Homo sapiens: one gene and its partners. The protein of the gene in region 4 purifies or fractionates together with the protein of the main gene of each other region. This does not show direct contact. Each region holds a gene or a part of one and is shown on either strand. Other genes may lie near its edges.

Region 1 (4,307 bases), on a different chromosome or scaffold from region 4:
TATCAATGAATCAAAATAGAAAATCCAGAAATAGGCCCACCCAAATATGCCCAACCAATTTTTGACAAAAGTGCAAAAGCAATTCAATAGAGGAAAGATAACGTTTTCAAAAAATGGCGCTGGAGCAAATGGACACAAAACTTAGACCTAAGTCTGACGTCTTATACAAAAATTAATGGATCATAGACTTAAGAAGTAAAACATAAAACTATAAAACTTTTTTTTTTTTTGAGACAGGGTCTCCCTCAGTCCCCCAGGCTGGAGTGCAGTGGTGCAATCTCAGCTCATTGCAACCTCTGCCTCCTGGGCTCAGTTGATCTTCCTGCCTCAGCCTTCCAAGTAGCTGGGACTTAAAGGCGTGAGCCACCACACCTGACTAATTTTCGTATTTTTTGTAGAGATGGGGTTTCGCCATGTTGCCCGGGCTGTTCTCGAACTCCTGAGCTCAAGCAATCTGCCCACCTCAGCCTCCCAAAGCGCTGGGATTACAGGCATGAGCCACCATCCCAGCCAAAACTATAAAACTTTTAGAAAAGAACATAGAAGAAAATCTTTGGGTCCTGGGGGCAAAGAGCTCTGAGACTTGACATCAAAAGCATGCCGCATAATAGGAAAATACTAGACTTTATTTAGGGGTTAAGAGTTTAGACTCTGGACTCTCTCAGCCTTGGTTTCACTAGTTAGCTCTATCACTAACTACATTGGGCATTGAAAATTCCTCTGTTGTCCCACGTGGTGCATGGATGATTGTAGACGAGGACACTGAGATCCTGAAGGCAGAAGTAATTTCTCTAAGCAACGTTGTTGGTTGGTGGCAGAGTCTGGGTTACAACCCCTGGTTTCCTGATTCCGAGTCCAAGTGAAATACTTTTGCCCCTGCAGTAGACCCTGCTACAGAGGATAAAAAGGCACGTCATAGGCTAGGAGAAAAATTTTGCCTACCACATATGTAACCAAGGACTAGCAGCTAGGACATCTGAAGAATTCTCAACATTCAACGGGGTAGAAGAATGAACGATTCAATAGAATATGGGCAAAAGACATGAAGAGGCATTTTACCAAACATAGGGTGCTATGGTCCGAATGTTTGCATTCTCCTCAAATTCCTGTGTTGAAATCCTAACCCCCAAGGTATTGGTATTAGGAGGCAGGGGCCCTGGGAAGTGATTAGGTCATAAAGGTGGAGTCCTCATGGATGGGATTAGTGTCTTTATAAAAGAGACCTTTGCCATGTGAGGTTACAGTGAGAAGACATCTGTCTATGAAGAAAGTGGGCCCTCACCAAACACAGTCTGCTGGCACTTTGCACTTCAACTCCCCAGCTTCCAGAACTGTAAGGAATATAAGTCTGTTGTTGGTAAGCCACCCGGTCTATGATATTTTGTTATAGCAGCCCAAACAGACTAAGACAGGTGACAAATAAACATGAAAAGATGTTCAACATCATTAGCCATTAGGGAAATGCAGATTAAAACCACAGCGAAATATCATGATACAGTTTTCAGCATGGCTAAACTAGAAAATAGTGACACCACCAAATGCCGACAAGGCTGTGGGGAAACTGGGTTGTTCAGACACTGCCACTGGGGCTGTAGCGTACTATAGCCACTTTCATAAACAGTTTGTCAGTTTCTTAAAAAACTAAACCTGCAACTACCATATGACCCAGCAATTACACCCCTGGGCACCTACCCAAGAGAAATGAAAACTCAACGTTTGCGCAAAAACCTGTGTAGGAATGTTCAAGCAGCTTTATTCATAATATGCCCAAACAGGAAACAACTCAGCTGTCCTTCAGTAGGTAAATAGTTAAGCAAATTGTCATACCCCTGTGTCATGGAGCACTACCTAGCAATAACAAGGAGCAAATTATTGATACATAACAATCTGGATGAATCTCCAGAGAATTATGTTGAATGAAAAAAGCCAGCCCCTGAAGGATACATACTGTATGATGCCATTTACATAACATTCTTGAAATTCTAAAATTACAGAGATGGGGAACAGATTTGTGGTTAAAGATGGAGCCGGGTGGGAAGAAAGTAGGTGTGGCTATAAACGGGTAACATGAAGGATCCTTGTGGTGATGGAAATTTCTGTATTTTTATTGTATCCGTGTCAGTATCCTGGTTGTGATATGGTAATACAGTTTTGCAAGATACTACCCTTAGGGGAAATGAGGTAAGACCTGGCATCTCTCTGTATTATTTCTTAATTGCATGTGAATCTACAATTATTTCAAAATAAAAAGTATGATTGAAGTAACTCTCAGGAAGCTTAGCCTACTGTGGATTAAGACATCAAAATTGCAGCAGGCTTTAACAAAGCTATACTACTACAAGGATAGTTCACACTTGAATTAGCTTGAAACATTACCTATCCATGTCATCTTGGAAAGCAGAAAATGGAACTTTATTGGAGTGGGACACTGGATGGCCAGGGTTTAGCAGAGCCTGCCCAACAAAAGTAGCTTCAGAATTGGCTTTATTCTCAGGAAGGCTCTTCCTGGACAGTGGCAAACATAGCCATAGCAAATACTGGCTCACTTTCTATCAGCCAGCAACCCTGGTGGAAAGAGGGCCTCTTACTCAGTTGTACCAGCAAGCTGTCTCCAGGAGCCGGGGCTGGAGAGACACCCAGTGCTGCTCTAGGCCAGTGTGGCTGAGGGTCTGTCTAGTCTGTCCTTGTACTCACGGCTTCCTTTTCTCTTGCAGACGCCCACTATTGCTTGGTTCTACTTCCTTTATCCCGATTGGCCGTCGGACTTATGCCAGTGCGGCGGAGCCGGTGAGTGGAAGCCCAGCTACCCGGGAGCCAGTTGGATGGTCAGAACCCTTTCTTCTGGGCCCCTAGGCCCTGAGCTACCCTCAGAGTGGGGCCTTAGTGTTTCCAGGACACTGGGAGCCACTTTCTCACTTAACCCTCCCCCAAAGCCCCTCATCAGTAATGAGCTCACACACCCCCATCCATGTGGGGAGGAAGCAGTAATGAGGCACTCCAGCCCCTCCCAGCCAGGAAGGTATCACTGGAGGCCTAGGTGGGGGGCGAGAACTCCCAGCCCCACCCAGCAAGTTAGGGGTTAAGAGTTTAGACTCCGGAGGCCCAGGGCGGTGGCTCCCGCCTGTAATCCCAGCACTTTGGGAGGCCGAGGTGGGTGGATCAACTAAGGTAGGGAGTTCAAGACCAGCCTGGCCAACATGGAGAAACCCCATCTCTACTAAAAATACAAAATTAGCCGGGCGTGGAGGTGCATGCCTGTAATCCCAGCTACTTGGGAGGCTGAGGCAGGAGAACTGCTTGAACCTGGAAGGTGAAGGTTTTGCGGTGAGCCGAGACTGGCCATTGCCCTCCAGCCTGGGCAACAAGAGCCAAACTCCATCTCAAAAAAAAGAAGAAGAGTTTAGACTCTGGAATCTCTCAGCCCTGGTTTCAGTTCCAGCTCTATCACTAGCTACATTGAGCGTTTTAAAAAGACCTCTGTTTCTCACATGTAGCATGGGGGATTGTAGATGAGATCCTGAAGGCAGAAGTAATTTTCCCAAGCAACATTGCTGGTTGGTAGCCGAGTCTGGGTTAGAACCTGGCCTTTCCACTATACCATGGTGCTTCTCCAGACAACAAGAACAAGGTAGGGAGGGCCAGGCTTGGGCCACTCAGGAAGCACTAACTCTCACTGCACAGAGGGTGGAGAGGCCTGGTCACTTTGCCCCTGTACCACCGGTTCCTAACATGGAATCTGACCTTGTAAAACAGGTTGGCAGCAAAGCTGTCCTGGTCACAGGCTGTGACTCTGGATTTGGGTTCTCATTGGCCAAGCATCTGCATTCAAAAGGCTTCCTTGTGTTTGCTGGCTGCTTGATGAAGGTAAGAGACGAGTTATCTTCTTCACCATTGTCTTTTACACATAGTCATTGTTTTTTAGTCTTTTAAAAAGTGCTTTCCTAACAACTGGCTCACCTTTGCTTAAACCAGCCTGTCCATTTTCCATCGGCTTCAGTCCCACTTGTTCTTCATAGCTTTGTCCATCCATCATCCATGCATCCATCCATCCATCCATCCTCTCATCTATCCATCATTCGTCAAATGCTATGATGTACCTGACACTTTGCTAGGTGCAGTAGAAGAATGAGACCTTGTCCCTGCCCTGAAGTTGCTCCCTGTCGAGTGGTGAGGAGACAGCCATGCATAGACACAGCTGAAGAATTCGAGTGAAGCAGATTCTCAGGGGTGTGCGAGAATGTTCGGCGAGACTGTGTAGGAGGAAGGGATTGATGATGGCATGCCAGAGGAAGTGACATTTGTTCTGG
Region 2 (4,307 bases), on a different chromosome or scaffold from region 4:
TAAATCCTTTAAAATGTATTCAGGCTTGTTTTATAGCCCAGAATGTGGTCTGTCTGAGCTGTGTTCCATGTGTGCTTACGAAAAATATGTCTGTACTCAGCAATGTATTGTGCTGTTTGTTGCTGGGTGGAGTATTCTGTTATGTCATAATGCTCCATAAATGTCAGTTAAGGCAAGTTGGTAGTGTTATTCAAGTCCTCTATTTTCTTGCTTTCCTGTTTGTTCTCTCAGTTATTAAGAGAGGTATAACTATAATTGTGATTTATTTCTCCTTGTAGTTCTATCAGTTTTTGCCTCGTATTTTACATCTGTGTAATTAGGTGCATAAAACATTTAGGATTGCAATATCCTATTGACCAGTTGGCTCACTTAACATTATGAAGTGACTTTATTACCCCTGGTGATATTGTTTACTCTGAAATCTGCTTTGGCAGATATTAACATGGGCACTAATCTTTCTTTTAATTATTGTGAGCATGATGTATCTTTCTCTGTCCTTTTAATGTGTATGTGTCTTATATTTAAATTGTAATTCTCGTAAAGAGCATATATTTGGGTCTTTTAAAATCCAACCTGAAAATCTCTGCCTTTTAATAGGGGGTTTTGACCATCTACATTTAATGTGATTATTGATATAGGCTTAAGTCTATCATTTGCTCTTTTGTTTTATTGTCTGTCCTCTTCTTTGTTCCATTTTCTCCTTCTTTGACCTTCTTTTGAATTAATTGATCTTTACAATTTTTTTAATTTTGATTTTTAAAAATGATTCTATCTCCTTATTGGCATATTACTAGTAATTCTTTTTGTTACTTTATTGATTGCTTTAGGGCTTATAACATGTGTCTTTGAGTTATCACAGTCTACCTTCAAGTTACGTACTGTTTCATATATAATACCTTATAAAAGTATACTTCTATCTCTTCCATCTTGGCCTTTATGCTATTATGGTGCATTTTATATGTTGTAAACCTCACACTGTATTGCTACTATGTTTAAACAGTTGATTATATTAATAGTTTTTAAAGATTTAGGTTTAAAAAACCCAAAATATATGTATTTATTCCTATAGTTACCATTTCTAGTTCTCTTCATTCCTTTTTGTAAATCCATCTAGTGTCATTTCCTTCTGCCTGAAGGGCCTCTTTTAACGTTTATTGTAGTGCAAGTCAGCTGGACTGAATCATTTCAGTTTTTGTATGTTTGTAAAAGTTTTAATTTTGCCTTTAGTTTTTAAAGACAACTTGATCGAGACATAGTTTGCATGTCATAAAATTCACTAATTTAAGATGTACAATGCAGTTATTTTTAGTAAATTTGCCAAGTTTTGCAGTCATCACAACAATCCGTTTTTTGAAAATTTCTGTCGCACATTAAGATCCCTCATGCCCATTTACAGTTAATCCTTCTTCCCACCCCCAGCCCAAGGCAACCACTAATCCATGTTGTCTCCAAATGCCTTTTCTGAACATCCCATATAACTGGAATAATACATGCTTGCAACACATATACTAAAATTGGAAGAGTACAGAGAAGATTAGCATAAAAACCAAGAAAAATTTAAAAAGGGAAAAAAATAAATGGAATCATACAATAAGTGTTTTTTTGTTTTTTTTTTGGAGATGGAACTTCACTCTTGTTGCCCAGGGTGGAGTGCAATAGTGTGATCTCGGCTCATTGCAACCTCCGCCTCCTGAGTTCAAACGATTCTCCTGCCTCAGCCTCTCAAGTAGTTGGGACTACAGGTGTGTGCCGCCATGCCCTGCTAATTTTTTTTTGTATTTTTAGTAGAGACAGGGTTTCACCATGTTGGCCAGGCTAGTCTTGAACTCCTGACCTCAGGTGATCCACCTGCCTCAGCCTCCCAAAGTGCTGGGGTTTCAGGTTTGAGCCACCGTGCCCGGCCAATAAGTGGTCTTTTTTGTCAGGTGTATTTTGCATAGCATAATGTTTTTGAGGTTCATCTGTGTATTATGTATCAGTATTTCTCCCCTACTCTTCACTTCACATCCTAATTTGTATTTTTCTGTTTTCAAAACATATTCACAGTTTTATTTAGGAATATATTTCTAGTAAGCCTCCTCACATCATTTGTACATTGAATTAGAATATAAATTAAAAGTATGCACTTTCTTATATTTATTTATGTACCTGAATAATCCTGCTTACAAGACTTATAGTATAATTGGGTCCTGTTTGTTCTTGTATCCATTAGAGCCTAGTGCTAGTAGACTTTAAATTAATATAACTTGAATTGAATTGAATCATACTCTTGTAAACTCACTTGAATCGTGTTTGAATGTTAGGACACACAAACATCTAGAATAATAATACTAATTATAGTTACAAAACATGTATTTCACAATCTTTAGTGGTAAAGGCTACGTGAAATGGCTTATTGGTCCTACATACAGTCTTTGTTTTGGGTTATGAAACAGTGATTCTTTGAAATTATGCCGACATGGTTTAAAAAACCTATTTCCCTAAATCTTATCCTCAGTGGTTGGCATACTTATAGGAAAAGTTAAATGTGAATTAGAATTAAAAACAAAAAACTTTTGGCCAGGCATGGTGATTCATGCCTATAATTTCAGTACTTTGGGAAGCCCAAGTGGGAGGATTGCTTGAAGCCAGGAATTCAAGGGCAGTTTGGGCAACATAGCAATACCCTTTACAAAAATAAAATAAAAAATTAGCCAGGCATGGTGGTACCCACCTGTAGTCCCAGCTACTTGGGAGGCTGAAGCAGGAGGATTACTTGAGCCCAGGATTTCGAGGCTGCAGTGAGCTATGATCACACCACTGCACTCCAGCCTGAGTTACAGAGTGAGACCCTGTCTCCAAAAAAAAAAAAAACCACCTTTTTATTAATTTTATCATTTCGCATCTATTTTCAGATGCGAGAGTGTAGTAATTTTCTAGATAACTTGCCTTTGAAAGATACAGTGGCCAGAAGACCTGTTTATTTGAATTCTGCAGTTACCTTAGCCTTCTCTTTTACTTTTTGTTATTTTTGAAGAAAAAGTTTTTTTTCTCATGACTACTAGTGAGTTAATCTGTCCTGGTATTATTTTCTGTGTTACCAGATAGCATACTGGTCTGAGAGAGCTCTGTAAATATATATATTTAAAAACCCACCTAAAATCAAATGAAAAAAAAGATCTGTTTTATTTCCCCACATAAACTCAACCTTCTCTGGGGCTTCCCTGCTTTCTTGAAAGACAAGAAATGTGGAAGAGAAAGATGCTGGACAACCTAGAAACCAAGTCAGACTGTTCAGAAGAACCTTATGCCCTAGTCATGCAAGTAAAAGCCTGGCTGCTTCTCTGCCCGCTCCCTTTCCGGCAGAGAAGTAGTAGTATGCTGAATTCCGGACTCTAATCTGTTTACTTGACATCTCTGCTTGGAGATCTAATAGGCATTGTAGACAAAACTCTTGATTTTCTTTTTTTTTCTCCCTTGAACCTGCTGCTCCTAATAGCTCAGTAAATGACAGCTGTATCCTTCTACTTCTTGGGTTGAAAAGTCATTCTCCATCTGGATAATCAGCTTGTTCTGTCATTAAATGTCTAAAATCCAGCTGCTTCTCACCACTACTACTGCAACTGTTACACTCCTTTAAACCACCATGATCACTGCTTAGTGTAATAGATTGAAAAACATGACTATAATAATTTGCACCATCTGGGTGCAGTGGCTCACGCCTGTAATCCCAGCATTTTGGGAGGCCGAGGTGGGCAGATCACCTGAGGTCAGGAGTTCGAGACCAGCTTCATCAACGTGGCAAAACCCCATCTCTACTAAAAATACAAAAATTAGCACACACCTGTAATCCCAGGTACTCAGGAGGCTGAGGCAGGAGAATCGCTTGAACCCTGGAGGCAGAGGTTGCAGTGAGCTGAGATCATGTCACTGCTCTCCAGCCTGGGCCACAGAGTGAGACTCTGTCTCCAAAAAAAAAAAAAAGTATAATAATAATAATAATTTGTACCTTCTTCCATCAAGAAATAGTCTGTTTACCGCCCATTGAATCTGGGCTGGCCTTGTACTTGCTTTGGCCAGTAGAATGTGGTAGATATGTGAGTTCTGGAACTTAGGCCTCAAGACATCTTCTGCCTTAGCTCTTTTGGGACATTCCCGTCATCATGTAAGGAGTCCAGACTAGACTGCTGAGTGAGAGACCACATGGAGAAGAGGCCCAGCCAAGAGAAGCCAGAACCCCTAATGTGTGAACAAGGCGATTTTAGACTCCCACCCCATTCGAGCTGCCTGATGACTGCTATTAGTAGAGAAACATTCCAGCTGATCAT
Region 3 (3,815 bases), on a different chromosome or scaffold from region 4:
CCAGCATTTTAATGAGTCTTGGCCTTGTCCCTTATCAGCCATCACTTACTGCAAACTAAGTTCTCTCTCGTGCTCTGTCACGCATAGCTCTAAATGGCGTCTTTTTTCTCTCTCTCTTTCTTTTTTAATTTAAATTGTTTCATCAGCTCAGTTACTTAATAACATGCCTGTAGAATGGCTTAAATTTCGCATTTACCTGGGGTTTGTCTCCGTTCTCCTGGATTCATAGACAGTTACACAATTATGTGTATAATTTAAACAGCCATTCCCAGAAGCTCCGAAGGAAAGATGGGTTACAGGATTTTAGATTTAACTATCAAAGGCTCAGGGGCTAATTAACTAGCACTTGGGTGGAAATTTATATTAAGTCACACATATCTAGGACTGAAATCTTCATGTAGCAGCACGTCATAGGTTCTGAAGTATTTCTCCTTTATTCCTCATCATAACCCCCACACCACGCATTGATATCGTTACCCCCATTTGACAGACGGGGAAAACAGACCTAGGAAGGTTAGATGCTTACTTAAGTGATACAACTGGAGCTTAAGTTCAGGTATTCTGACTCAAGGGTTACCAGAGTTCACAAGGAAAAATACAGGACACCAACTTAAATCTGAGTTTCAGATAAGCAATGAATAATTTTTTAATCATAAGTATATCTCTTGCATAAGTACATCTCATGCAACATTTGGGATATACTTACACTAAAATATTATTTGTGGTTTATCTGAAATTCAATTTAACTGGGCGCCCTGCATTTTATCTTACAACTGTGACTCCCAAATTTGGTGCTTGTTCCTTAGTATTCTGTGATGTTCTGCTGTAATTAAAAATACAAAGTACTGGACAGGCATGGTGGCTATAACCCACCTGTATTCCCAGCACTTTGGGAGGCTGAGCAGATGGGTTCCTTGAGCCCAGGAGCTCAAGACCAGCCTGGGTAACATGGTGAGACCCTGTCTCTAGAAAAAATGCAAAAATTGGCCAGGTGGTGGCATGCACCTGCAGTCCCAGCTATGCGGGAGGCTGAGGTGGGAGGATCACCTGAGCCCAGGGAGGTCAAGGCTACGGTGATTCGTGATTACGCCACTGCACTTCAGCCTGGACAACAGAGTGAGACCCTGTCTCAAAAAAAAAGTACTTTCTCTCTTGTGACTTTCACCCTGGCAGTTTCAGGTTTAGAAATCTTTGGGGGGGTGCTGGGCATGGTGGCTCACACCTGTAATCCCAGCACTTTAGGAGGCCAAGGTGGGTGGATCACTTGAGGTCAAGAGCTCGAGACCAGCCTGGCTAACATGGTGAAACCCCATCTCTACTAAAAATACAAAAATTAGCCGGGTGGTGGTGGCACGCGTCTGTAATCCCAGCTACTCGGGAGGCTGAGGCAGGAGAATTGCTTGAGCCTGGCAGGTGAAGGTTGCAGTGAGCCAAGATCGCGCCACTGCACTCCAGCCTGGGTGACAGAATGAGACCCTGTCTCAAGAAGAAGAAAAAAAAACAAATCTTTTTTTTTCTTTCATTTAACAAAGACGCTTATTAATTTATCTTTCCCCATACTCTTAATCCTCACCAGAGAAACTTGCCCAGGCCAAAGAAGAGAACGTGGGCTTACATCAGACACTGGATCAGACACTAAACGAACTTAACTGTATATAAGCAAAACAGAAGAGTCTTGTTCCAACAGAAACTCTGGAGCTCCGTGGGTCTTTCTCTTCTCTTGTAAGAAGTTCCTTTTGTTATTGCCATCTTCGCTTTGCTGGAAATGTCAAGCAAATTATGAATACATGACCAAATATTTTGTATCGGAGAAGCTTTGAGCACCAGTTAAATCTCATTCCTTCCCTTTTTTTTTCAAATGGCACCAGCTTTTTCAGCTCTCTTATTTTTTCCTTAAGTAGCATTTATTCCTAAGGTAGGCAGGGTATTTCCTAGTAAGCATACTTTCTTAAGACGGAGGCCATTTGGTTCCTGGGAGAATAGGCAGCCCCACACTTTGAAGAATACAGACCCCAGTATCTAGTCGTGGATATAATTAAAACGCTGAAGACCATAACCTTTTGGGTCAACTGTTGGTCAAACTATAGGAGAGACCAGGGACCATCACATGGGTAGGGATTTTCCATCCAGAGCCAATAAAAGGACTGGTGGGGGCCGGGGGTGGCTATTGTGGGAAGTCATAACCCACAGATAGATCAACCTAAGAATCCTGGCCCTTCTCCACTCTCCACCATGCAGGACAAACATCTTCTCAAGCAGTCAACGTAGAATGCTTGGGAAATAGTCATAATTACCCACATATAGTAATTAATAGATGGTAATTAATTGATCCTTGATGTGATGTTCTTTTGCATATTTCCTTCATTCTAAAGTTGTTCCCTGGCCGGGAGCGTTGGCTTTCGCCTGTAATCCCAACACTTTGGGAGGCCAGGACAGATCACTTGAGGTCAGGAGTTCGAGACCAGCCCAGCCAACATGGCGAAACCATGTCTCTACTAAAAATACAAAAATTATGGTGACGCCTGCCTGTAGTCCCAGCTACTCGGGAGGCTGAGGCAGGAGGATCGCTTGAACCCAGGAAGTGGAGACTGCAGTGAGCCGATATCGCACCACAGCGCTCCAGCCTGGTCGACAGAGTGAGACTCCATCTCAAGAAAAAATAAAAATAAAGTTGTTCTCTGAAGAGCAAATGTCTCATTCCAGTAATGACCCACTCAGCAGGAATATGGTGGAGTTCAGTCCAATTCAGGTCAGCCATATCCAAAAGACCACAAGTCATTACTAAGTTGAGCAAAAGAGTTTTTATCTATTAGCAGAAAGGGCCTCTCTGGCAGCAGAGATTAAAAACTGGCCCAACTTCATTTCCATACTTCAGGGAACAGCAAATTGAGGATTTACTTATCTAGGACTTGAATTCCTTCTTTGGGACCAAGTTAATAAAAGACCAAGAAACTCCTGATTAAACTGGATAATGAAGGATTCTGTAGACAGGGCTGCACGTATCGGCTTTGTTTGACTTCTCTTTTCTCAGTTAACATCTCAGAGCTAGAACATTCCACATTCCCCAGCAGCGTGTGGGGGCTGACTAAAGTTTACAATTCCAACTAAAAATCACCCTGCTTCTGGCTTATCTGAATCCCTTACCCACCCCACCCCACCACCCTACTCCTATTTATTCAGCACCACACTACCCAGGAAATACACTAGCAAATTGTGCAATGGAATAAAATCCACACTTTAGATTCTTGCAACTGTATCATATGTAATAGTATCACTTTTTCTACATTTTGGTCAAATAAATTTTTACATAAACTACAATTTGCGTGAATTTTAGAATGTGTGGGGGTACACAGAGCATTTTGGTTCAACAAATGTTAAAGGGATGGAAAGGGAAAATAACCAGAGCCAAGAATGTAGACAAGGTTATCTATTTGCTTTATACTGTGACTTCATGATACAAGGATATTACAGTCTCATTGCAGGCGAGAGCACTCAGCCTCGGTCACTCGAAAACTCCTGGCCTTCCTTATCCCCTACGCTGCCTAAGCCAGGCTGTGAAGAATGAGTAGGATTTTAAGAGATAAAAGCAGGGAAAATCATCTCTGTTGCCTGAGTTAGGAAGATCTGCCTAGCTAAGGCTGAGTTACACATACAAAGGAAAGCAGACCAGCATGGGCACCATAGTGAGACCCCGTCTACAAACAATAACAAAAATTTGGCCAGGTACAGTGGCCAAATTACACCTGTAATCCCAGCACTTTGGGAGGCCGAGGCTGGCGGACCGCTTAGGGCCAGGAGTTCAGGACCAGCCTGGC
Region 4 (5,115 bases):
AGGGCAAATGCTTGCCCTAGGTTCTGGCTCAAAGCTGTTGGAAAGCCCCGCAGGGGATGAAATCACTTTTAAGTAATTAGGCTTCCCATCCAGCAGCCAGCAGCTCACTAATAGGTACCCAGGGCAATCAACAGGCAGGACCTTCGTCCCAGGAACTGAGGCCACCGGGCCTTTCTTTGCAGGCTCTCCAGCCCAAATCCCTATGAGGCCTGGCAGAGGAAGACAGGCATCAGTGTCCCTCCTGCCCACTCCCCGAGAGCTGAACATAAATGTACCCTCAGAAAGAAGCCTGGCAGACTCCAGGATCACCAATGAAGTCAAGTTCAATGGCTTTATTGAGCTGTTGGGAAATACCACAGCATTCGCAAAGGCCAGCGATCACAGGAAATGGCAGCGAGGGAAAATGACTGACGGTTTTCACTCACCTCGCCCTCGCCCTCGGCAGCCATGTAATTCATTTCTTCCACATCAACAAGTTTTATCAAATTGCACGGCATCGGGGCCCCAACATGGCCTGTATATTAAATAAGCAAATGGTCATTCCTAAGGGAACTACTCATAACCTCAGGTCAAATTATTTTGATAGCAAACAGGATTCCACATAAGAAAAACGGCTGGGATAAACTTCTGATTTCTGCAATTACAGCCATTCTCTTCCTAGTATAATTTAAGAGAGTCTATTCTTAGACTAGGGAAGAACATATTTAGTGTCTTCAGGACCTTTTCCAAGTGTGATGCTCTGAGTTATTTATGAGTAATTTGGCCTCTATGTGAAGGTTCCTACAAACACCTGGAAGCAGCCTCTCTCAAACCTTCACTCGGCTTCCACCCTCCGATCGCCCCCACCCATTACTTGCACTCATCTTACACAGAATTCTTAGCATCCTGTTCTCTGTAAGAAGAGAGAACATATGCAGCTTTGGCAAACCTCACGCACCACCTGGTTCTGATCAACACGGCCTTTATTTCCTTGCGTATGAAGAAGCATGTCTTACAGTTTTTACTAAGACGGGACAGTGCTTATTTCTACAGCTAACTTAACTCTCTTGCCAAAGGCTGTTAAGACTGGGCTGTCTTTTCCAAAAGCAGCAACAACAGACATTAGATATGTTAGATATCACATTAGATATCACAAATAATTCTTCCTATGTTTTAATAATTTGAGCTTCTAGAGATCAGTATTCCAAATTCTCTGTTAAGGAAACTGAGGTTAAAAATTAAACAAATACCATAAAGAAGATTCACAGACTGTCTGCGTTAATTCCAGGACAATGATGTTAGTGGACAGTGCTAGGTTCTAGAATATATGTTACTAAATGGTGCTAATACTTATAATACTCCAAATAAGCTGGGAAGTTTATTTATCACAGTGTAGAATTTACTACTCAGGTGACACAGAGGAAGCACAGAAGCTCTGCAGTCAGGCCGGGGTTGAAATCCTGGCTCCAAAGCATAATGCCGCGTAAATTCTCATACATCATTTATGTGTTACTTAAGCAACAATCTATAATTTCCTCTGAGAAGTACCAGAACTTATCTCACAGGGACACTGTTGGGGTTACACTGACATTAGGTACATCCTAAGCACCCATCACAGAGGCTTACCCATGACAGATGCTCAATTATTTTTGTTTGTCCTCCTCCTTTTTCCTTTTGAGAAATGACTTTTTGAGAAAAAGGACTTGTATTTATTCCTATTGGTAGTCCCAACACCTAGCACAGCACACAGTACAAATTCAATAACTATTTGTTGTTTAAAATGACCAGCAAATAACGAGACCCTACTCAATTACTAGGAAGCTCTGTTGGGCCAGACACTCTCAATCTGGAACACAGGGCCCCTCTCAGATGTCACTAGTAGAGTCTAGGCAAGTCTCTGCTGCCACCAGCTTTACAGTCAGATCCCCAGCGCCACCCCTCAGTTGCAGGAGGTGTTCTCCCCACAGTGCCCTGACTTACAAGAGTGTTTGCCCCCAGAGCCTAATGATCAGAAACATAGCACTTTTGTTTAAGATGGTTAATGAACCAGTCAGTGATTAACCCAATTCCAGACATACCAATAACCCAGTATGAATAACAAAATTCCAAAAAGGAGCCTCCTACAGCCATACCTGCGGTCCAGTCTCCAGGCATGGTCAGGCAGCACCCGGCAGTGCACTCTGTCTGTCCGTATCCTTCATAAAACTGGGGCACCAAGAGATGCAACATTATTAAGGAGAGCACAATCACACCTTTACTGGAAGTGCACAAGCAATGAAGTCTCACTAACTCCCAAGTCATGGCTGACTGGTGAAATCTCATTTCAAATGGTCTGTTCAGTAAGTTCATTCAATGGTCCAGTGTGCTTTACGCCAACACCAGCCGTCACCCAGGTACACCTTCTATTTAACTTCCAGTGGCCAAGCGAGGGAGAACCCCTATGTGACTGGTCACCACCCAGCAGCAGTGAACTCCCTTGGCCAATTCACAGGACATGTACCCCACACATGCCCCGTCTGCCACCAAATCCTCCTTTCTCCCTTTACTACAGGTTGTCAGCATGGTGTGCGGGTAGGCTCATCACCTGTGACCCATTCCACAGCTGCATACCTGCTTCTAAAGGTTGTCTTGCACCTGATCCTAGAGAAAATTCAACAAATGGCAGACACACACATTCCCCTGCCTAGGGTAAAAAATATACATATGGTTGCTTCTCCAAGCAACCTAATAATAACATATCTTCCAAACAAACATAACACACACACACAAAGTAGGGGGTGGGAAGGATAGGGGTGATGTTGGTGAAAGGACACAAAGTCTCCATCAGGAGGAACTGGTTCAAGAGCTCCATAGCACCACGTGGTGACTAGAGCTAACAACAATGTATCATATACTTGAAAACTGCCCAGAGGGTAGATTCCAAGTGTTCTCACCACGTGGGAAAAAAAAGTATGGGTGGTAAGACACATGTTAATTAGCTTCATTTAGCCATTCCACAATGTTTACATATTACATACATCAAAACATCATGTTGTTACGCCATAAATATAGATACGCTTGTCAATTAAGAAAGAACACACACACACACACACAGTACAGATGACTTTTGGTGCAGAAGAGGACTGGGCATCCTAGTGTGGGAGAATCAGGCGCCGTGACATCCACCTCACCTGACAGCCCAGGGCTGCTCTGAGGAACGTCAGCACAGTGGCAGACACCGGGGCGGCTCCTGTCACCATCAGCCGGACTCTTCCGCCCAGGCTCGACTTTCAGGGAGGGAGAGTGGGAGAAGGTGAGGGTTACACACCTGGAAGTCGGCGGCCTCTCCGCCAAGGGGGCCTGCTTGGGACCCCGTTCCCTAACCCATAGCTGCAGACCACACGGAGGCCACACGGAGAACTCACAGCCCTCATGATGGCAGCACAGGGCTACGGTTTGTTTCCACCCGTGACTGCCCTGTTCCCTCCCAATGGGGATGGAAGTCAGCCCCACCTCTGCAGAAGCTATTTCAGGGAATTAGAACACAACTGGGCAGATCTGTGGCAACTACCACAATTCTGGCCTTCTGGGGGGCATGATATTGTTACACGTTATCACTCATGCTTGAAAAATTACCTCAAGAGTGACACGCTTGTTCCGGAAAAACGCAACAAAATGGAGAATGAGAAAGGCTCCACTACCCTGACTCCTTTTCCCCCTAGATGGCTGCAATACTATTGATCTTAGAAACTGAGGCCTCCTTAATGGCTTTGCCTTAGTTTTTAAATGTGTGCCAGAATTAACAAAAACATGTTATTCTCTCCCTTACCTTCATCTCTCCCTCTCACAAAAAAGGCCCTCCCAGAACTCTGAAAAGCGAAGTCGGTTTCCATGGGAGCAGTGGCTGTGAGTCACGTGTTACCTGTACTTTGTGGAAGATCAGCCGGTCCCACAGGCTGTTGTTTCTGATGATGCCGCTGCGAAGCTCTGCTTCTTTCCTCTTGGAGGCAAAGTCCAAGAGCCATCGCTTCAGCGTGGTGTTTGCTTGTCCGAAAATCTAATGAGGCAAGACATGAGAAAGTTTTCACACCTACTAGGATGGCCAGAGTCAAAGAGTGTGGAGAAATCAGAACCCTCACACACAGCTGGGGAACACAAAATGGCACAGCTGCTCTGACAGCCTGGCCGGTCCTCTAACGGCCCCACATGGTCAGCACAGGACAGCAATTCCACACCTCGGTATACACCCAGGAGCAATGGACACATACATCCCCAAATGCCCATCGAGTAGGAATGTGTAGGCCAGGTGCGGTGGCCCACGCTTGTATTCCCAGCACTTTGGGAGGCTGAGGTGGGCAGATCTCCTGAGCTCAGGAGTTTGAGTCCAGTGTGGCCAACATGGTAAGACCCCATCTCTACAAAAAATACAGAAATTAGCCGGGCATGGTGGCACATGCCTGCGGTCCCAGCTACTCAGGAGGCTAAGGTGGGAGGACTGCTTGAGCCCTGGAGGTGGAGGCTGCAGTGAGCCATGATAACACCACTGCACTCTAGCCTGGATGACAGAGAGAGAGACCCTGTCTCAAAAAAAAAAAAAAAAAAGGAATGGATAAATAAAATGCGTTATACCCATACAGTGGAATACTATTTGGCCGTTAAAAGGAATGAAGTGCTAATACGTGCTACATGGATGCTTGTGAAAGACGCCAGTCACAAAGGAGCACATATGGCATGATTCCATCCACAGAAAAGTCCAGAATAGAGAAATACACAGATGAGCGGATGCTGAAGGGTGGAGGGGGTCGGGGAGCTGATAAAGAATAGGTAAGGGTTTCTCTTGGAGGTCATGAAAATGTTCTAAAATTGATTGTAGTGATGGCTGGAGAACTGTGAAAGTACTCAAAACCTTTGAATTACACACTTTAAATCAGCAAATTATACAGAGTATTATATGTTGATAAAGTTGTCCTTTTAAAAAGAACCATTAAAAACATAAGAACGTTCTGAGAGATAACAAAAGTCCTGCCTCAAAATAAAGAGTAAGTGAACACTCTTTCTGGAGATTGCTCATGCCCCTCGCGCCTGGCCCTGGCTGTGCGGTCCACGCAATGATACCCACCGCAGAGGGGCTGGTGTTCTCTTGGGCTCTGCTGTGGC

What was found. Proteins that work in one complex are often made in the same cells at the same time.
Region 1: the proteins of ACSL1 (region 4) and BDH1 purify together in Homo sapiens (affinity purification with mass spectrometry, with the first as the bait; one large-scale study listed by BioGRID). This does not show direct contact.
Region 2: the proteins of ACSL1 (region 4) and ZDHHC20 fractionate together in Homo sapiens (co-fractionation; one large-scale study listed by BioGRID). This does not show direct contact.
Region 3: the proteins of ACSL1 (region 4) and TPM4 fractionate together in Homo sapiens (co-fractionation; one large-scale study listed by BioGRID). This does not show direct contact.

What each region holds. Positions count from the first base shown.
Region 1 is NC_000003.12:197,531,969-197,536,275, reverse strand, and holds part of BDH1 (D-beta-hydroxybutyrate dehydrogenase, mitochondrial precursor), read left to right. Parts: exon of another isoform or gene 1-2,086; coding exon of another isoform or gene 2,087-2,181; intron 2,182-2,714; coding exon 2,715-2,787; intron 2,788-3,753; coding exon 3,754-3,864; intron 3,865-4,307.
Region 2 is NC_000013.11:21,449,304-21,453,610, reverse strand, and holds part of ZDHHC20 (palmitoyltransferase ZDHHC20), read left to right. Parts: intron 1-4,307. UniProt on the Homo sapiens protein: Palmitoyltransferase that could catalyze the addition of palmitate onto various protein substrates.
Region 3 is NC_000019.10:16,099,688-16,103,502, forward strand, and holds the end of TPM4 (tropomyosin alpha-4 chain), read left to right. Parts: intron 1-1,576; coding exon 1,577-1,659; 3' UTR 1,660-3,315; downstream 3,316-3,815. UniProt on the Homo sapiens protein: Binds to actin filaments in muscle and non-muscle cells. Plays a central role, in association with the troponin complex, in the calcium dependent regulation of vertebrate striated muscle contraction.
Region 4 is NC_000004.12:184,762,742-184,767,856, forward strand, and holds part of ACSL1 (long-chain-fatty-acid--CoA ligase 1), read right to left. Parts: intron 4,016-5,115; coding exon 3,881-4,015; intron 3,246-3,880; coding exon 3,150-3,245; intron 2,185-3,149; coding exon 2,112-2,184; intron 515-2,111; coding exon 426-514; intron 1-425. UniProt on the Homo sapiens protein: Catalyzes the conversion of long-chain fatty acids to their active form acyl-CoAs for both synthesis of cellular lipids, and degradation via beta-oxidation. Preferentially uses palmitoleate, oleate and linoleate.